3 linked regions of the Homo sapiens genome follow. The protein of the gene in region 1 interacts with the protein of each later gene in a biochemical or structural test. Each region holds a gene or a part of one and is shown in the gene's direction. Other genes may lie near its edges.

Evidence for each region. Proteins that work in one complex are often made in the same cells at the same time.
Region 2: of the proteins of RANGAP1 (region 1) and MUL1, one has a biochemical effect on the other in vitro, tested with the Homo sapiens proteins (one study listed by BioGRID).
Region 3: of the proteins of RANGAP1 (region 1) and USPL1, one has a biochemical effect on the other in vitro, tested with the Homo sapiens proteins (2 studies listed by BioGRID).

What each region holds. Positions count from the first base shown.
Region 1 is NC_000022.11:41,276,178-41,283,274, reverse strand, and holds part of RANGAP1 (ran GTPase-activating protein 1), read left to right. Parts: exon of another isoform or gene 1-488; intron 489-1,631; exon of another isoform or gene 1,632-1,733; coding exon of another isoform or gene 1,734-1,818; intron 1,819-2,062; exon of another isoform or gene 2,063-2,192; coding exon of another isoform or gene 2,193-2,230; coding exon 2,231-2,342; intron 2,343-5,257; exon of another isoform or gene 5,258-5,379; coding exon of another isoform or gene 5,380-5,392; intron 5,393-7,097. UniProt on the Homo sapiens protein: GTPase activator for RAN. Converts cytoplasmic GTP-bound RAN to GDP-bound RAN, which is essential for RAN-mediated nuclear import and export. Mediates dissociation of cargo from nuclear export complexes containing XPO1, RAN and RANBP2 after nuclear export.
Region 2 is NC_000001.11:20,505,152-20,511,990, reverse strand, and holds the start of MUL1 (mitochondrial ubiquitin ligase activator of NFKB 1), read left to right. Parts: upstream 1-3,839; 5' UTR 3,840-3,966; coding exon 3,967-4,086; exon of another isoform or gene 4,087-4,464; coding exon of another isoform or gene 4,465-4,467; intron 4,468-6,839. UniProt on the Homo sapiens protein: Exhibits weak E3 ubiquitin-protein ligase activity. E3 ubiquitin ligases accept ubiquitin from an E2 ubiquitin-conjugating enzyme in the form of a thioester and then directly transfer the ubiquitin to targeted substrates.
Region 3 is NC_000013.11:30,613,562-30,620,919, forward strand, and holds the start of USPL1 (SUMO-specific isopeptidase USPL1), read left to right. Parts: upstream 1-4,358; 5' UTR 4,359-4,495; exon of another isoform or gene 4,496-6,179; intron 6,180-7,358. UniProt on the Homo sapiens protein: SUMO-specific isopeptidase involved in protein desumoylation. Specifically binds SUMO proteins with a higher affinity for SUMO2 and SUMO3 which it cleaves more efficiently. Also able to process full-length SUMO proteins to their mature forms.

The sequences.
Region 1 (7,097 bases):
TCTCCCAAAGTGCTGAGATTACAGCCGTGAACCACCACTCCCGGCCCCCCAACCCCCCCCTTTTTTTTTTAAATCACATACTAAATGTGTCATTTAGAACATATGCTTCAAGAGGTCAGGGTTTATGCTTCCTTTACTGCTATACTGCTGACCTGGAACAACATCCAGCACACAGTAGTAATCAATGTGTTTTTGAATGAATGAGTGGACACCTTACCCAGGATAATAATTCATGCTTATTGATAAAGGCAGACAAACCAGGGTTATAAGTTAGAACCCAGAGGAAGCCTAGGGGTGGGAGGATTCAGGGTATCACAACTGTATCTGAGAATGAGGAGGTTGTAGGAGGAGGCCTTTCGGATAGCACCCCCTAGTTCTGCCCCTCATATCTGCTTCCTTGGTCTCTCCTGATTACTTGCTGTTTCTTTTCTTTTTTTGGAGCATCTCACAGATACGTTTATTCATACCACAAAGTAAACACTATTCAGGTATGTAGTGATGTTCCACGTTCCTGTCTAATATAGCTGGCTTCAATTTATAGGCAGTACACATTGAGACATTTAATCTCACATGTACTCCAAGTAAAGCTGGAGTACCATGAGCAGGCGCAGGAGTTCTCAAAGCTTTACTTGTTTTAAAAATTTTCATTTATTGGCCAAGCGTGGTGGCTCATGCGTGTAATCCCAGCACTTTGGGAGGCTGAGGCGAGTGGATCACGAGGTCAGGAGATCGAGACCATCCTGGCTAACACACGGTGAAACCCTGTCTCTACTAAAAATACAAAAAAATTAGCTGGACATGGTGGTGGGTGCCTGTAATCCCAGCTACTCAGGAGGCTGAGGCAGGAGAATGACATGAACCTTGGAGGCGGAGCTTGCAGTGAGCCCAGATGGCGCCACTGTGCTCCAGCCTGGGCGACTGAGCGAGACTCCGTCTCAAAAAAAAAAAATTCTTTCATTTATTTAGTTACTTTTAGAGATAGAGCCTCCCGCTGTTGCCCAGGCTGGAGTGCAGTGGCAGTCATAGCTTACTGCAGCTTTGAACTCCTGGGCTCAAATGATCCTCCTGCCTCAGCCTCTCCAGTAGCTGGGACTGACTACAGGCACGTGCCACCACACCCAGCTAATTTTTATTTTTATTTTTATTTTTTTGAGACAGGGTTTTACTCTGTCACCCAGGCTAGAGTGCAGTGGTGAGATCATGGCTCACTGTAGCCTCTGTCTCCGGGGCTCAATCAATCCTCCCACCTCAGCCTCCCCAGTGGCTGGGATTACTGGTGCACACCACCATACCCTGCTAATTGTATTTATTTTTAGTAGAGATGGGATTTTGCCATGTTGCCCAGACTGGTCTTGAGCTGCTGGGCTCAAGCGATCTTCCCATCACAGCTTCCCAATGTGCTGGGATTACAGGTGTGAGCCACTGTACCTGGCCAGCTTTACTTCTTTTACCAGCACTCCTGATTTTATAAATAGTGAGGCTTATCAACCCCATTTCTACCCAAATCTTCTGGTAGACTTGAGTATAGTAGGGCTTCATAGGTAGCAGCCCTGTCCCTGTCCTATTATGATGGTAGCTGTTGTGATGTGGCGATCTCTGATCTAGAAACCCCTGAGGGGCCATTGTGGCCTGCCCAGTCTCCCGGCCACGGTTGAAACCAGACGTGCAGTGGGGCTGACCCCTGTGCCCCACCCCAGAGTCATGCCAGCGTGGGTGGTGGGGCATTCTCTGGGATGAATGATCTGGATCCCATAGCCATCTGTGTCCTGTTTGAGGAATGGGACCCTCAAACAGAGAACAGCCAAGATGCTCAAGCAGGTGTGTGCTTGGGCCAGACTCTGCAGCCTTTGGTTTGGGACTTGACTGCCATTCACTGAAGGGGCCCAGGAAATGGGCAGCTCACATGGTGTTGCTGGGTGTCCAGCTGCGGCAGTTTAGCAGAGGAGGACTTGTAATGAGATGGTAGCTTCTTATAGGCTAAGACATGATTTTTCTGTTCTTTTACTACCTCCTGCACCTTCTAGAACTGTTCCTTCTCTGATGCTGTTTTCCTTTCTTCCAGTGATTTATCTCTAGGGTCTCCATAGCAGGGGAGGTAGGGTCAGACTCCTGAGATGGCTGATGTCCTACCCTGCCCCCAACCAGGGGCCCCAGGAGACTCCTTTTTCTTACTGCAACTTTGGCCTCCTCAGTCTGCAGATCTCCAGGGGAGCCCACCAGCCTAGTCAACATGGCCTCGGAAGACATTGCCAAGCTGGCAGAGACACTTGCCAAGACTCAGGTGGCCGGGGGACAGCTGAGTTTCAAAGGCAAGAGCCTCAAACTCAACACTGCAGAAGATGGTGAGTTTCTGGAAGTTGTGCACTGGTGTGTCCAGGGGAGGAGAGGGAGTGTACTGAACTCTTACTGGTTGTCAGGCTCTTTCTGCTACATTGTCTCCATTATTTGTCCCAGCAGCTCTGTGAGGTATCATTGGGCCTATTCTAACAATGAGGCTCAGAGATCATTTGCCCAGGAGCAAGCTCCCCTGCACTTTCCATGTTTGTATTGGGCATCCCTTTGTGCCCTGCCCTTTCTTTCTCAGGAGGGGATGATAGGTAATGAGGGGCCACAGTTAGTGCCAGTCCCAAGATACAGCCTCTGACTCTGACTTAATATCCGGTGTTGTCCCCACCCTTGCCCTTAACCCCCATGATCCCAGGCAGGCCTGGGAATAGCTGCAGCTTTCCCCAGAGCTGAGGCTCTGGTGGAGCTGCATTAAAACAACCTGGGCCCTCTTGGGAGATGCTGGTTCATGCAACCAGATGTACCTGGGAGAGGGATGGCTGTCTGTGTGTATACAGGTATTGCAACCACAGAAAACTAGGAACCAGAGAGCAGACCCTGTCTTTTCATCCCTTGTCAAGGCTTGGCTGCCACTGACCAACCCTGAATCACCTGGCACCTGCAAGTGAAGGCACCTGCATCAAGTGAGGCCTCCTGGGATTCTGGCCCAACCAGGGGAACTGGTCTGGACATGCCTGGTTGTCATGTTGTGTAGGCAGCCTTGTTCTCCTCTCCAGGTCGGAGGCTGCTTGAGTCCTTGGGTAGCTGGGAGCGTGCTGATGCATGTTCCTAACATCTCCATAAGGTCTAACGTTTATAGACTTCCTCCCTGTGCATTTATCACTTTTTTTTTTTGAGATGGAGTCTCTGTCACCCAGGCTAGAGTGCAGTGGCACGATCTCAGCTCACTGCAAACCTCTGCCTCACGGGTTCGAGCAGTTCTCCTGCCTCAGCCTCCTGAGTAGCTGGGATTACAGGCGCCCACCACCACACCCGGCTAATTTTTGTATTTTTAGTAGAGATAGGGTTTTGCCATATTGGTCAGGATGCTCTCGAACTCCTCATCTCAGGTGATCTGCCCACCTTGGCCTCCCAAAGTGTTCGGATTACAGGCGTGAGCCACTGTGCCCGGCTTTTTTTTTTTTTTTTGAGATGAGTCTCACTCTGCCACCCAGGCTGGAGTGTAGTGGTGCGATGTTGGCTCATTGCAACTTCTGTCTCCCAGGTTCAAGCGATTCTCCTGCCTCAGCCTCCCAAATAGCTGGGACTGCAGGCTCACACCATCACGCCTGGCTAATTTTTTTTTTTGAGACATAGTCTTGCTCTGTTGCCCAGGCTGGAGTGTGGTGGTGCAATCTCAGCTCACTTTAACCTCTGCCTGGGTTCAGGCAATTCTCATGCCTCAGCCTCCTGGGTAGCTGGGACTACAGGTGTGTACAACCATGCCCAGCTAATTTTCTTTTCTTTTTGTTTTTTTTTTGAGATGGAGTCGTGCTCTGTCACCCAGGCTGGAGTGCAGTGGTGCAATCTCGGCTCACTGTAAGCTCTGCCTCCCTGGTTCACGCCATTCTCCTGCCTCAGCCTCCTGAGTAGCTAGGACTATAAGCACCCACCACCATGCTCCGCTAATTTTTTGTATTTTAGTAGGGATGGGGTTTTACCATGTTGGACAGGCTGGTCTAGAACTCCTGACCTCAGGTGATTCGCCCGCCTCAGCCCCCAAAGTACTGGGATAACAGGCGTGAGCCACTGTGTCTGGCCTTCAGCCTATTTTTGTGTTTGTATTTTTATTATTATTATTTTTTTTGAGACGGAGTCTCGCTCTGTTACCCAGGCTGGAGTGCACTGGCATGATGTTGGCTCACTGCAGGCTCCGCCTCCTGGGTTCATGTCATTCTCCCACCTCATCCTCCTGAGTAGCTGGGACTACAGGCGCCCGCCACCACGCCCGGCTAATTTTTTTGTATTTTTAGTAGAGACGGGGTTTCACCGTGTTAGTTAGCCAAGATGGTCTCGATCTCCTGACCTCATGATCCTCTCACCTCGGCCTCCCAAAGTGTTGGGATTACAGGCGTGAGCCACCGTGCCCGGCCCCTTATTTTTGTATTTTTAGTAGAGACGGGGTTTTGCCATGTTGGCCAGGCTGGTTTTGAATTCTTGACCTCAGGTGATCCGCCCACTTTGACCTCGTTTATCACTTTTGATGCTTGCGTCACCCTTGTGGGAGATAGATTGGAATGTTGCTGTTTTATAAATGAGAAAAAGGAATTTAGGAGACTTTAAGTAACTTGACCAAGGTCACACATTTGATAAATAGCAGAGCTAGGATTTTCACAGAGGTTCAGTGAAATCCCTATTCCTGTGCTTCTAATTAGACATTGAGCTCCGTTTAGGAAACAGAGATTTGATGGCAAATGCCATTTATTGAACACCGTGTCAGATAAGGGTATTAAGTGCCAGATAAATAGTATCTCAGTTTATCTTCACAAAATCCTTTGAGATAGATTGCATTTCCATTTTGCAGATTGGAAAACTGAGGTTTAGGGAGGTGGTATGACATGCCTAAGGGCACAGCTTTAATGAGTAGAGCTGGGATTAGAACTCAAGTTTGGGCCAGGTGCGGTGGCTCACGCCTGTAATCCCAGCACTTTGGGAGGCCGAGGTGGGCAGATCACCTGAGGTCAGGAATTCCAGACCAGCCTGGCCAACATGGAGAAACCCTGTCTTTACTACAAATACAAAAATTAGCCGGGCGTGGTGGTGGACACCTGTAATCCCAGCTACTCTCCGGAGGCTGAGGCAGGAGAATCGCTTGAACCCGGGAGGCGGAGGTTGCAGTGAGCCGAGATGGCACCACTGTACTCCAGCCTCGGTGACAGAACGAGACTATCTCAAAAAAAAAAAAAAAAAACTCAAGTTTGGCTGGCTCTGAAATCCATCCAGTTAACTTCTTTACTCTCCCAGCACAGGCTGAATGTGGTGTCTCCCATTTTGTAAGTCCCCAGGGGTGCCCAGCTTACCCAGCTCCTAAGAAGCAGCAAATCTGGAATAGGAATGATATACCCAGGTAACTAAGTGAAGGCAAAATGTGAATATACTCTATGAAAACAAGTGAAAAGGCTCTGGGAAGTAAGGCAGGGAGAGGTCTCACTTTTACTTTAAGAGCACCCAGGAAGTCTTTTCATCCCTTGCCAAGGCTTGGCTGGCACTGACCAACCCTGAATCCCCTGGCATCTGGAAGTGAAGGTACCCGCATCAGTGAGCCATCCTTGGGTTCTGGCCCAACCAGGGAAACTTGGACCCACCTTGGACAACTTCTTAGGGAGCCCCTGCTAGGTTATAAGTCCTTTCTCAAGACCCTTCTTGACCAGAAGGTCAAGTTCAAACTTTATCTCCCATACCCATCTCTATCTCTTCCCTCCCACATGTCACCCTACTCCATCCTGTACCAGCCAGACTCAACTTTTTGTTTCATGTAAGTTTTGGTTTTGTTCAGATTATACAATTAATGCAGGTTTATTATAGAATACAGAAACATTCAAAGAACAGGGAAAAAATATATCCTCACTTTCGGCCGGGCGCGGTGGCTCACGCCTGTAATCCCAGCAGTTTGGGAGGCCGAGGCGGGCGGATCACGAGGTCAGGAGATCGAGACCATCCTGGCTAAAACGGTGAAACCCCGTCTCTACTAAAAACTACAAAAAATTAGCCGGGCGTAGTGGCGGGCGCCTGTAGTCCCAGCTACTTGGGAGGCTGAGGCAGGAGAATGGCGTGAACCCGGGAGGCGGAGCTTGCAGTGAGCCGAGATCCCGCCACTGCACTCCAGCCTGGGCAACAGAGCGAGACTCCGTCTCAAAAAAAAAAAAAAAAAAAAAAAATCCTCACTTTCATATAACCCCAGGGATATAACTACTATTACTTTCAGGGCATTTTATTTCTAACACAGTCTTTTTTTTTTTTTTTCTGAGAAACAGTCTCGCTCTGTAGCCCAGGCTGGAGTGCAGTGGCAAGATCTCGCTCACTGCTACCTCCGCCTCCTGGGTCCCAGTTCAAGCAATTATGCCTCAGCCTTCCGAGCAGCTGGGATTACAGGCATGCGCTACCATGCCCAACTAATTTTTGTATTTTTAGTAGAGACGGGGTTTACCATGTTGGCCAGGCTGTTCTTGAACTCCTGAACTCCTGACCTCACGATCCGCCCGCCTTGGCCTCCCAAAGTGCTGGGATTACAGGCGTGAGCCACCGCGCCCAGCCTAGTCTTTTTTTTTTTCCTGAACATAGCTGAGTTCATTTTGTTTTGTTTGTTTTTTGAAACGGAGTTTCGCTCTTGTTGCCCAGGGATTAGTGCAATGCCACGATCTCGGCTCACTGCAACCTCTGCCTCCCAGGTTCAAGCAATTCTCCTGTCTCAGCCTCCCTAATAGCTGGGATTACAGGCATCCACCACCACACCCGGCTAATTTTTGTATTTTTAGTTAGAGACAGGGTTTCATCATATTGGACAGGCTGGTCTCAAACTCTTGACCTCAGGTGATCCTCAGGCCTCAGCCTCCCAAAGTGCTGGGATTACAGGTGTGAGCCACTACTCCCAGCCCATTTTGTTTTTAATTGGGATTATATTATAGATCTTTTAAAAGCTGCTATATAACCTGATATATTGAGAACATTTTACTTCAAATAGTTAAAAACACACAATCACCCATTATCCTACCAGCTAGAGAGAACTGCTATAGCATTTGGTTTCTATGTTTCTAGACCTTGTTTTATGCACA
Region 2 (6,839 bases), on another chromosome or scaffold:
ATTTACCTCCCTTTCTTGAAGTCAGAGGCTCATCTTTAACTTGTGATTCAGTGAGGACAGCCTTCCAGGCTGGGAATGGTTCCCTAGGGACATCTGGCTGCAGCTGAAATTGCCCATCTCTCATTGCTCCTAACAAGGTCCACATGATGTAAATTTCAGACTGTCCCAGTAGGACTGTGCTCAGCATAGCTAATGAAGGATTTCAGCCTTTGGCAAAAAAAATGGAAGGGTTATTTAAAACCAAACTGTGTCATTTAAGAGTGATGGCTTTAATGAGCTCCCAGGGAACTCATAAAAGGGCCCAGAGAATAAAACAAGGAGGCCTAAAATAGTCAGAACCTGTAAGCAAGGACCCCTAACTTATTGCAGTGCAGCACTCTGCCTGTTTTATTTTAAGGACCCGTTTTTGTTCTCTTCCTTGCTGTAACCTAAGGATACAAGAATTTTGATTATATATATTTTTTAAAAAACAGGTTAGGTTGCACCCTTGCTGATCCTCAAAAAGCTTTACTGGAATGGATACCATCCCCAAAATGATGAAGTTTAAAGTTTTGGTTTGGCATTTAGGGACCTACAGGATCTGGCCTCAACCCTCCTTTTCAATTACTTGCTCCTTGCTCTCTGTCGCACATCCTGGGCTCTAGCTATACTGGGCCAACTCTTGGTAGCTTTGTACCTTTGCTGTTTCTTCCCCCCTCTTCATGGAAGGCCTTTCCTACTTCCATCCCAGCCACTCCACCCTCCATTCTGTTAACAGAACTCAAATTCCTTCCCTGGTGGAAATAAACAGCATCTCCCTACTGTGGCACTTGGTTGTCCTAATTTCACTGGACCTGGGGCAATCTGTAACTGTCCATGTCTACCTCCCCACAAGACCCTAACCAGTCAGAGGGAAGAGGCTGGCTATATAAGGTGTATCTCCTAATGCCCAGCCTAGAACCTTGGATGTAGGAGGCTCTCTGTAATTGTTGGTTGTGAAGTAAATAGCATGCTCTTTTTTTTTTTTTTTTTTTTTTTGAGATGGAGTCTCACTCTGTTGCCCAGGCTGGAGTGCAATGGCGCTATCTCAGCTCACTGCAACCTGCGCCTCCTGGGTTCAAGTGATTCTCCTGCCTCAGCCTCCCAAGTAGCTCGGATTATAGGCATGTGCCACCAAGCCTGGCTAATTTTGTATTTTTAGTAGAGACGGGGTTTGTCTATGTTGGTCAGACTGGTCTCGAACTCCCGACCTCCCGACTTCAGGCAATCTGCCCGCCTCCGCCTCCCAAAGTGCTGGGATTACAGGCGTGAGCCACAGCGCTTGGCCATGCCCAGCTAATTTTTTGTATTTTTAGTAGAGACGGGATTCCACCATGTTGGCCAGGCTGGTCTCGAACTCCTGACCTCAGGTGATCCACCTGCTTCGGCCTCCTACAGTGCTGGGATTACAGGCGTGAGCCACCTCGCCTGGCCATTTTTTTTTTAAATTCTAGTTTTATTAATTCAAAATATGCTGTACATTCACACTCAAAAGATACAACAGAGTGAAAAGTCACCTTCTCTGTTCTCTAGCCACCCCATTCCCTTCTATGGAAAGAACCAATTATTATCAGCTTTTTGTGAATCCTTCTGGAGACATGCAATATATATAGTATACTCTTCTCTCTCCTTTTAAAAATAAACGGGGTTCCTCTTTAGTTTTGCAGTTTGCTGTTTCACCTGACTATGCACACATACACATATTTAAAAAATTTACTCAACCAACTGACTATTGATAACATTTAGTTTACTTTCATTATTTTGTTATTAAAAACAATGTTGGGCCTGGAGGGACACGTTTTACATACATTGAATCAGGCCACTAGGTAAGATGTGTCTAAAAACTACAGATGATGTATCTAAAAACTGTAGACTGCTCCACAAAAGTAAAATTTCTTTATTAAATCAGCCTGTTATATATAACAGTTTTTAACTCCATTCCTTAAATACAATTGGGGTCAAATAAGAATTACTTTCTATAAGAATAGGGCTAGAATCATTAGATTGTTAACACTGTGAGATATCTTTGATGATTTTCAACCCAAGGGATGATCATGAATTTGGTAAACACACACACACACAAACTTAAAATGAGGTCTAACCTTAAATTTTTAATAGAACTTGTCAAAAAGTTTGTTAGCAAAAGTGTGGGTGAAAAGAGATTCCCGGCCAGGCGCAGTGGCTTACTCCTGTAATCCCAATACTTTGGGAGGCCAAGGCGGGCGAATCACTTGAGGTCAGGAGTTCAAGACCAGTCTGGCCAATATGGTGAAACCTTGTCTCTACCAAAAATACAAAAATTAGCTAGGCGTGGTGGTGCACGCCTGTAGTCCCAGCTACTTGGGAGGCTGAGGCACGAGAATCACTTAACTTGGGAGGCGGAAGTTGCACTGAGCCGAGATCACGCCACTGCACTCCAGCCTGGGCTACAGAGCGAGACTCTGTCTCCAGAAAAAAAGAAAAGAAATTCCCACATATTGCTCATAAATGTAAAATTGGACATTATGGAGAAAAATTAGACAATGTTGATCAAGATTAATGGTGCCAACACCCATTGACCTAGCAATTCTACCTCTAGAAATTCTCCCTACATAAATACTTATACATGTAAACATGAAAATACAAGAATTTAGGCTTGGTGTGGTGACTCACGCCTGTAATCCCAGCACTTTGGGAAGGCAAGTCAGGAGGATCACTTGAGCCCAGGAGTTCCAGACCAGCATGGCCAACATAGTGAGACCTTGACTCTACAAAAAATTTTTTAAAAAATTAGCCGGGGGTGGCATGCATCTTTAGTCCTAACTACTGGGGAGGCTGAGGTGGGAGGATTGCGGGGTGGGAGGCTGCAGGGAGCTATGATTGCACCACTGCACTCCAGCCTGGGCGACAGAGCAAGACCCTGTCTCAAACAAATAAAAAAATTAAAGCATAACCTGTAGGAGATAGCTCAATGAATGCTGATGTTTAGAAGAAAGATTTGGGTTATCTCCGATTATTTTAGAAAGGAGATGCATTACAGAGATCAGGGAACAGTCTCTGAGAAGGATCCCCTGGGTTTTATGGCCATACCTATTGCTTTTAGCTGTATAACCTTGAGCAAGTTACTTACCTGAGCCTCAGTTTCTTTATCGGTAATCTGCATTATAGCTGTGTTGTGAAGGTTCAGTGGGATGGTGCCTGCAAAACCTCCCCCGCCTCGAACCTGACACATAATAGGCACTAAGCGTAGCCGTAATTATTATTTAATAAATATGTTGTTCTATGTGGTGATGGCAGATTAAGGGGCTACTTTGGTGATATAATCTGCCCTCCTGGGGTAGAGTTGAGGGCTTTGGAGTTGGGTGAATTCCTCTCTAGCACTCACTAGACTTCGAGCACATCATTCCCTAACCTCTATGGCCTCACTTTTCTCATCTGTAAAGTGGCCAGAATAAATTCCAAGTCTTGAGAGTTTGCTCTGAAACTTAAACGTATATTACTCATAAGAGTTTAATACACAATTATTTTATTTCCTGCCAATCTAATGGCGAAGACATGGAATAACCCATCAAACAGCCCAGTAACCCCAGGAAACCAGAGGGACGGAAACCAGGGCGATGGGCGAGTCAGTCATGGCCAGTGCGCCGTGTTTCGAAGGGGACGGCCATGGAGCGGTGGGTGGTCGCTCAGCTCCCCAATCGCTCTCCGACACCCGGCTGGGGAGACAGGACCTCCCTGGAGGCCGCAGCAGCTTGATTGTCACCCGGGCAACCCCACCTTCCGGTTCCCTCTACAACCCCTTGCCCCGCTTCCGGTTCCGGCGTCGTGCGTCATCGCTGGGCGACTGATTTCGAGTTTCCGGTCAGGTTAGGCCGGGGGGGTGCGGTCCTGGTCGGAAGGAGGTGGAGAGTCGGGGGTCACCAGGCCTATCCTTGGCGCCACAGTCGGCCACCGGGGCTCGCCGCCGTCATGGAGAGCGGAGGGCGGCCCTCGCTGTGCCAGTTCATCCTCCTGGGCACCACCTCTGTGGTCACCGCCGCCCTGTACTCCGTGTACCGGCAGAAGGCCCGGGTCTCCCAAGAGCTCAAGGTCAGTGCTGGAGCCGGCCTGGCCTCAGCCGGGTCATCTCTGTCCCAGGTGCTGGGGAGCCCATGATTCACCTTGGCCGCCCCACCGTCGGAAACTGTCCAAAAAAGGAAACAGCCTCTGAAGGGTGTCATCCAGCCAGTAGATGGAGGAGCGAGGGGCAGGATTCGGGCTCGGGATAACGGCTGCTCCGCTCCTTTTCTCCCAAGTCCCTCTTATGACTCAGAATGAATCTTGACTTCATTACTTTACTCGAAAAATATTTATTGAACACCTGCGATGCTCCAGGCAGTGAGTCGAACAGATGAAAGTCCATCCCCTCGTGGAGATACCATTTTAGTACGACTAGACAGCAAACATGTAAATCAGGCGGTGTAACAGATGGTGAGCAATGCTTTAGAGTAAGGTAGGGGAGAGAGGACATGGAATGCTGGAGAAAGGGGGATCTCCTATCTTAAATAAGGTGACATTTGAGCAGAGCCTAGGAGGAGATGAGGGGAGTCATGCAGATATCTAGCGGGAGATGGAAGGAACAGCAAGTGCAGACATCCATTTACTGAACCACTCCACTCCTTGCTTTACAGACGCTTCCTTTTTATATTACAACTATTTTTATAAATGGCGCTTTTTTCTGAACTGTGCTTTACGGTTTACACAACACATTTGCATTTATTTTTATTTTTTATTTTTTCGAGATGGAGTCTTGCTGTGTCGCCCAGGCTGGAGTGCAGTGGCGGGATCTGGGCTCACTGCAGCCCCTGCCTCCCGGGTTCAAGTGATTCTCCTGCTTCAGCCTCCCGAGTAGCTGGGATTACCACGCCCAGCTAACTTTTTTGTATTTTAGTAGACACAGGGTTTCACCATGTTGGCCAGGCTGGTCTCCAGCTCCTGACGTCGGGTGATCTCCCCGCCTCGGCTCTCCGAAGCGTTGGGATGTAAAGGCGTGAGCCACTGCGCCCAGCCACATTTTCATCTTGATTTTATTTTTTTCTTAACAATAATTTTTTTTCCTTTCTTTCCTCTCCTTTTCTTTTCTTTTTCTTTTTCTTTTTTTTTTTGAGACGGAGTCTCGCTCTGTTGCCCAGGCTGGAGTGCAATGGCACGATCTTGGCTCACTGCAACCTCTGCCTCCCGCGTTCAAGTGATTTTCCTGCCTCAGCCTCCGGAGTAGCTGGGATTACAGGTACCTGCCACCACGCCTGGCTAATTTTTGTATTTTTAGTAGAGATGGGGTTTTGCCATGTTGGCCAGGCTGGTCTCCAACTCCTGACTTCAGGTGATCCCTCTGTCTCAGCCTCCCAAAGTGCTGGGATTACAGGCGTGAGCCACTGCGCCTGGCCCACAATAATTTTTTGAAGTAAATAAAATGACAGTTACCACCACATTGCAAATCAGAAAATTGAGATTTGGAGGAAAGGCCATACAGCTAGTCAGCTTGAAACTTAAATTTAGGTCTTTTGATTCCAAGGGTAGGATTTTAATCTGATTGACATTGCTTTATTGTGACTATCTGACTGGTCCAGAGAGATGGACCTCTTTAGGTCAGAGACAGGGTCTTATTCATCCATTCTCTTTCCTCTAGCTTCTAACACAGTACTTGGCAAGTGGTAGATGCTCAGTAAATGTTTGTGGGTTCTTTTTGGCTGAAGTTTCACAATACAAGAGCTAAGGGCCTAACCTAATTTGATGTTTATATGAAAGATGGATTCCTAAACCTGACTAACTTAATTATCAGATTGTTTTCAGTAAGGGTTTAGAAACTAATGTGTGGGCCAGGCTACTCCAGCCTGGGTGACAAGAGCAGGACTCCATCTCAGAAAAAAAAGAAACCAATGTGTGAACTCCAGTCCCTGCCATGAAGGGAGTTTTGGAATCTGGAAAGAACCAAGTTATGAGGCAATTGGATTTGCTGTGCAGTGGCGTTATAGTGAGATTCCAGCTGCCCTGTATTTCTCCTGATTAAATAATCAAGTTAATCCTGAAGTGATTAGCTCTGTGTATCTGATACTTCACTTTCTGACTCCAAACCACTTTGGCCTCAAGTTGGCTGGAGGAGGGCTTCTTTGAAGCAGTGAACTCTTTAGGTCTCATCTTTGGGTGACCTTAAAACCTTTGCCAAACAGTTCCTAAATGAGGATGAAATAGCCCCTTCCTGGAAAAAAAGTTGGGACTGTTAATATTTTAGATTCTATTTTCTATTTCCTTCCTCTCTTTCTCCCTCCCTTCCTTCCTTTTCTTTCTCTTTGGCCTTCCTTCCTGTCCTTCATTTCTTTCTTCTTTCTTTTTTTCTTTTTCCTCTTCTTTTTTTTTTTTTTTTTTTTTTTTGAGACATGGTCTTACTCTGTTGCCCAGGCTGGAGTGCAGTGGCACAAACATAGCTCATTGCAGCCTCGAGCTCCCAGGCCCATGCCAGTCTCCTGCCTCAGCCTCCTAAGTAGCTAGGACTACAGGTGCACACCACCACCTCCAGCTAATTTTTTATTTTTCATAGAGATGGGGTCTTGCATGTTGCTCATGCTAGTTTTGCACTGCTGGCCTCAAGCAGCTATCCCACTTTGGACTCCCAAAGTGCTGGGATTACAGGTGTGAGCTACCATGCCTGTCCTAGATTCTATTTTCTTGATCAGATGACAAAACTTCCAGAGAGGGGCTTGTGTCCTATCCTGTGTATCTCTCATAGTGAGGAGAATGCAAATTTATTGCGTGCCTCCTATGTGCCAGCCCCCGGGCTGGATTCTTTCACACCTTGAAGTTCA
Region 3 (7,358 bases), on another chromosome or scaffold:
AAAGATTTATTTGTTTGTTTGTTTAGGACAAAGTCTCTACACATAATCTACTTGCTTCATATATACATACTTATGCATATTATGTATGTACATACATGCTCTCAGGGCTCACATGAAAAAACAGCCATTCAGGTGATGTGATTTATCTCATATGCTTACTTTAGAGTCAACAGGGTGTTGACTCCACTATACAATACTGGCATGGAGAACACATAAGTCAAAGTAGACAGGACCCAGCCGTACCATTGGCTAGGGCACAAATATATTCACATATGTGGAGAATGATGTACGTAGAAAGGTCTTCATTGCACAATGCTCTTTAATAAAGATCTGGAAAAAAAAAACACCTAAATGTTCAAAAGGATAGGGTAGATGAAATAATGGTACATTATAAAATGGAAGATTATGCAGCCATAAAAATAAGGAAATACCTTAAATAATAACAGAACAACTTTTAAGGTAAGTGAACAAATAAGGTACATAATCACTATGCATAGTATGTACCATTTACATAGAAAAAGGGAAGAAAAATAAAATATATATAGTAATTTATTTGTTCTTACATGTGTAAAATTTTTCTGAAAAATATACCAGAAACTGGTAGCACTGGTTGCTTCCTAGGCAGAAAATGACTGAGTATCCTTTTGTACCTTTTGAATTTTGAACCACGTGAATGAATGTGTTACCTATGAACAAAATGACAAGTTTAGATCAGCAAGACAGCAGTTTGAGATGAAATGGGATTACACCCTTAGTAGGAAAAACTTTTTAAAGCAGGTGGTACTTCTAAGAGCAAATACCTGCACATGGAATGTTGAAACTATAAGGAACTCTCCTTAAGAGATCCATCTATTCCAAACTTCTCATTTTATAGATCTGTAAACTGAGACCTTAAAAATTCAGTGACTTGCATAAGGTCACACAGCAGAAGAGATGGGATTAGATGCTAGATATTCCAATATCAAGTTTAGACTATTAAAAATTCAGTGACTTGTGTAAGGTCACACAGCAGAAGAGATGGGATTAGATGTCAGATATTCCAGTATCAACTTTAGACTATTATCACACCATCTTCTCATTTTCTGGGGGCAAAACAGAACCAAGTAAGTTTGGGCTACATTACGAGTTGTCATGTTTTTGTTTTTGTTTTTTTGAGATGGAGTCTTGCTCTGTCGCTCAGGCTGGAGTGCAGTGGTGTAATCTCAGCTCATTGCAATCTCTGACCCCCGGGGTTCAAGCAATTCTCCCTGCCTTAGCCTCCCGAGTAGCTGGGTTTACAGGCGCCTCCCACCGCGCCCGGTTAATTTTTGTATTTTTTTTTTTTTTTTTTAGTAGAGACGGGGTTTCACCATCTTGGCCAGGCTGGTCTTGAACTCCTGACCTCGTGATCCACCCACCTCAGCCTCCCAAAGTGCTGGGATTACAGGTGTGAGCCACCACGCCCGGCCGAGTTGTCATGTTTTATCTAAATTTTAGAGTCTAATGTATAAATTAACCTTAAGCCCTGAAACTACTAATTTCTTGTTTGGATCACTATACGGCTACACTTAAAAATATGCTGTGCATACCTCTATCATTGCATGTATACAATATGATAGATGCATGATATGACAGACACACAATATGATACACGTATTTTTTTCTATCCTAACACATCTGAATTTACTGAAATAACTAAAATGTCTTAAGTTACTTTTTTAAATATACACATGCATAGCACAAGCGTGTTGCCAAAAATATGAATACAGGTTTACAATTCCTTAACTAAAACCCAAGGGTTGGATGTGTTTTAGAAATAAGAATTTCATACAATTTTTAAGTGTTACAGGGTATATAAACCATTATATAACACATACCAGGGGCCAAGGGCAGCACCCCATAATCAAACATATTAATATAGTTTCAGCAAAACACATGGGATAAAGACTATATACAGCTTCTCAATAGTTCAGGTCATATTTTGCTACCAAATGAATTTTGTTGCCAAGCTTAAGAAGTTTTTGGTTTTCACCGCTTTCTGAATGTTAGATTGAGATGTGGGATTACAGACTGTACTCATAGAGTGCTTCTAGAAAGCAGTCAGTCACTTCAACTCTCATTTTTTTTTTATGAGACTAAAAAAGAAATCATAGCAAGTAGCTTTTATATCCCAGGTTTGGGCCAAAGACTTGTATTGTGGTTAAGGAATCTAACTTAGTAGAAGGTGCACGAGCTGACATCGTGAGTGGCTAAAATGAGAGAAAAAAAGAGAAAATCCTAATCATACAGAAGCACTGAACTACTGCAGCTGTTCGTTAGTTATTAATTTAATAAAAGCTTCCTCCCTTTAAATCATGTGAGTTTATAACTGGAAATAGGTCAATAAAATTTCTGTCCCACACTGCTGACAAGCGATGGACGCAATTAGCTTTAATCCCACTGGAAGGTACTGCACTCTCTCTGGGACCAGGATATGTAGAAAAAAGCATTTCAAATATATAGGAATAACCAGAAATGTATACAGTATTCTCAACTTGGGACCGTTACTCTATAATATAAACGAAAGGGGTTTTCTAGTCAATCTCTGCTGATCTCCTGTACCAAAGTTCTTCCCTTTATAAGTCTTGTACTACCTTTTACAAGAGGAAAAAGCTCTAGAGCGAAAACACAGAACACACTAAAATCCCTTCCTTTCTCTTTACAACTCAAGCCCCGCCTCCATTTTGTTTCTGTTACTAATTTTTCTTCTGAAAAAATACCAAATTTACACTGAAAGACTAAAATTCAACTTTGCAGACAACGTTTTAAAAAATACAATTCAGTTTGGTGATGTTGTTTTGCAGTCTTACAATTTTAGCTACATTTTAACTGAACCAATTGTTTTGTTCAATTTATGAGTTAATACTCAGCAAGTTTGTTTTTTACAAATAGTGTATTCCATTCTAAAAATGGAAGTAGCAGTGGTGAACAAGAAAACAACCCTCTGAGTTTTGTCTATTTCAGGAGGAAGTACTACTTTCTCCAATTTTAATCACAATTCATAAAAAAGAAAAACCTAACTAGCTAGATCTTAAATATACAAATACATTAACAATCTAGTAAAGCAACAGAAAAAGGTAAACAAACTAACCAGCCTATTTTTGTCTGGAGAAACCCCAACAAACTGCTGGATTCCTTGGCCATTTGCATTCAGAAGTACCAAAAACTAAAATCCTTTTTACTAAATAATTTCTTCTACACGAGACTTGTTTCCTCCACACCACCCTATCCAAATTGTCAGCATTATTCCAGAATATAATCATTTAGTTTGAGACCACTAAAAAACCCCGCAGTCCAAAATACCAATTGTGGTTTTTCTGTAAAGAAATGGTCAGAAACTACAAATTGTTATCCTAGGACACAGAACCAATCGACCAAAAGGACTTCTGGAATATGCTGCCCCCAAGATTTAGAATGCACAGGCAGAAATAGCATACGCGGTCACGATGTCCCTTAAGCCACATGACCTTCCTACGAAAGCAAAGGCTTAAACTTATCAAATGAGAACTCCCCCTTTCTCTGAAGTTAAAACAAGGCAGGGCAGCTGGAATTAGAGCAGCAGGGACAGATCGGCTGTTGACTAGTCAGAACGGGTCGTGGAATGCAAAGTCCCTGCGCTTTCGCTGCTCCCCTTACCGTGAGAAGATCTGGGAGGGAGGAAAGGAGGAGAAACACCCCAGAATCCTGGTAGAAAAGCCCCTGGCCTCGAAGATGGGCTCTAGGGAGACAGGGAGGGGCAGCTCCGTGTGTGATGACCCTTTGTGAACATGCACTCTGTGGCAGCTTCAGCTCCACCGAGGCTTTGGGAGAGCGGACTACGGATGCCCGGCGCGGCCCAGCTGTGAAGGCCGCGCCGGCGGAGAGGGTCCATGGCACCCCCGCCGGCTTCGGAAGCCCTTCCCTCTCCCACCTCCGCGGGTCACCCCAGGAACCAGCGGCTCCCGACCACGCTCGCGCGGACCACGGAACAGCGACGCGCAAGCAGGTCTCTTTCGTCAGCGTAATCCCTCCGCAGAAAGCCGCGCACTAGTTTTAATCACGCCCCACCCCCTGGCCGCTGGCGCCACCTCCGCCACTCGGGCGCTTTCCAGCAGCTTCCAGAAACGTCGCCTCCCCAAACCCAGCCACTCACACATGGCGGGCTCAGCAGCCACCGGCCCCGCCCCTCCTCGTCGCCGCAGTCGCAACTGCGTCTGCGGCCACAGGGCGGACAGCCACGCCTCTGCGGAGGGCGACCGGAAGTGCTCACGTCTTCACCTTCCCCGCCACGCCACCGTCCTTTCAGGCCCAGCGTGCAGCAGGAAGGAGGACTCTTTTGCCGCGGACTCAAGCCGGAAGCCGCCTTCCTAGTGGAGACGCGAGTGGGGGAGGAGCAGTCCGAGGGGAACGTGGGTTGAACGTTGCAACTAGGGTGGAGATCAAGCTGGAACAGGAGTTCCGATCGACCCGGTACCAAGAAGGGGAGTGCCCGCGGCAGGTAAGGGAGAAGAGGGAGGGGTTTCTTTCCGCTCTCGAAATTGGGAAAAGAGACAGAGCTGGGATGACCTATGGGGTAGTCGGCGCGCTGAAAGGATGGGCTGGGCTGGGACGGGGTTCAAGTGGGAAAGGTTGATGATTAAGGTATAGAGTTGGACTTACAGATCCGTTTGGGCGCAGAGAGGTGAACGCTGAAGAGAAACCAGAGTTTGTTTTCGTTTTCCAAGGAGCGTGGAGATGGGCAGGGTTAACGGACCCTGCGCCTCCTTCGGCTTCTTAGTTTGGGTGTTGAAACTCACCTCCTTTGGTCCTGTTCGTCTCTGATTCAAGACAGTTGGGTTTGGTACCTGACAGGGCTGGGTGCAGAAAGCTGACCCTGTTCCTCGGCTTCCAGGTCGGTTGTGGCCTCGCTTTTGACAGTTCACGTGCCGAGCCTACTCGCTCTCGGAGGGCGAGCTCAAATGGGTGGGTTTAAGGCCCCCTCTTCGAACAGCTGTTTCCCTGGGTTTCTCCATTTTGCACACAGGAGTGTGAATTAAGTTTAATTGAATACTTTTTGCGATTCCCAGGGCCACCTTGACACGTTCATTGTGCTATCTAACTGGGTTCATGCTGGGCTAATAATTCACATTAAGGCTTCTGGAGTATAAGTGGTTCACAGAAGTATGAAAAGGGGATGTTAGAAGAAAGATGCTGGGGGTGAAGTAGAGTTGAGGAAGACAGAACTGGAAAGCTAGGTTGGTTTCACAGTACAATGAGCTTTAGGTCATAATACTACCTTTAGGTTATATTGGGCTGTTTGGACGGAGTTTGCTGTAATCAGGCTAGAGTAAATAGAGAATTTTAAACTAAGCATTGACAGGCTCAGACTTGTAGAGGCATCATTTTGACAGTGATATGGAAGGGAAAGAGGTAGAGATTTGAGACCTTTCCAAAGAACTGTCCACAGAATTTGGTGACTTACTGTGCGAAGAGGGAAATAAAGAATAGGGAACAACTCAAGACTTTCTAGTCTGTGTGTTTGGAAGGATGGAGACGCCCACATTTAAGTGAGATATGGGAAGGAGGAGCAGATTGTTTTTGAAGGGAGGAAGAGCAGTTACTTAGGGTCAAATTAAGTTGTAAAATCCCCCCCGGGATTTTGTATGTAAGTCAAAGTGAATTGTATTTGGAAGAAGAACTGGGGAGCCCACCTCTGGTATTTTTTTTATGTCCCTCATATGGACAAATAAACCTCTGGTATTAAATGAATTTTCTTTTGGGGGATTCTATATATTCGGGATTTCAACCACCAACCTATCTGGTTTTTCCCGCTGAAATGTTGGGTGATGGAATCAGGAGAGCAGATTTGGAGACTCTTTATATTTTATAATTGAGAGAGACAAAGAGAAAACCGTTTGATTTGAAAAAGTTTTCTAGGTTCCCTCAGGTAGATGGAAATTTTCATCAAAAACAGTTTATTCAAGGTACATAGCCTACTAGTTTCCCATTTGAGAGTACCGCAGAATGATACGACGTGTACTGCTTCTCTACGCAGAATGAAGTATAAAATTAGCACCAAATAGTAACTTTAATTTGTCAGGTGCTAAACTTTTTACATGCTTTATCTCATTTAATTCTTAGAAGAAACTAATTTTACAAGTAAGTGTCTGGACCAACATCTGCAGGTACAAAGCCTGAAAAGCGTAAGTTTGACTCCTACATAGTTCTCTTTTGTAAGTAGATTATAAATAGAACCAGCCAAAGGTAATAAGTTGTCTGTGCCTAAAAAGAAAGAAAAAAGTTAGCATCAGTAGTTCTCACCAGAAGGGGTGATTTTGCTTACCAGGGGACATTTGGCAAGTCAGGAAACTTTTGGCTGTTGGATCTAGAGGGTAAAGGTCAGTGACGCTGCTAAACATCGTCAGTGCATAGAACAGCCTTCACAAACAATTATTTGGTCAAAGATATTTGTAGTGCTGCAGTTGAGAAATTTCTGTCTTATGGTTATTTCTTCAGGAATAGGAAATTAAGATTCGCCGATACTTTCTTTAAAAAGCAGTTTTATTTTTGAAATTATTCCTTGGCTTGAAAGGTTTGTGAAGTTTATATAGCCGAACCAGAATAGCGTAATTAGATTTTAAAGTGAATTGTGAGCCATCGATTCCCAGGAGATGGGTGTCATAGAATCATGGATTCTTGGATTTGGGAAAGACTTATGCCTAGAATTATTTTACAACATTTCTGCTAAGTGGTAATTCTCCTCTGCCCTAAAGGTCTCCTGTATTTGATTTTCCTATCATTGTGAACCCACAATTAAAATGCTCTTAATTATTTTTTGCTTACACTGAGCTCCGGTCTCTTGTAATTTTTACTCTGTTAAATGTGGTTCTGCACCATAGGACTGCACTCAAAACAAGCTTGCCACATATGTAATTTGTACTAGGACAGTGTTTATATTTTTGTTCAGATAACAAAATAAGTTAAATGTGGTGTAAATTAGATCATTTACAAATAATAATTTGTTAGCAGCTTTTAATAAGTAGTATTTTTCCCAACTGGTGAAGTATTAATGTTGGTAGTTGAAAACAATAGGAATGTATGGAATATATGGTTCACTGGTTCTTTTGTTCCTGTCAAATAGTGGCACAATGGATCTGGGGTTTTTCTCAGTATAATGCTGGCATATTTGTTTCAAATTGTACATAGACTCTAAAAAGTTAGGCTTTCAAATTCTGGTCAATATAGTTTGCTTTAAATAGTAGCTGCCTCTACTACAAGTTTTATTTAATTTGTTGACAAATGAGTCTGCTATGAAAACCGGTCCTGTTGCCAGTCACTACCCTCTGTTCACAAATTTGCTGGGTTTATAAATATAGGTATCA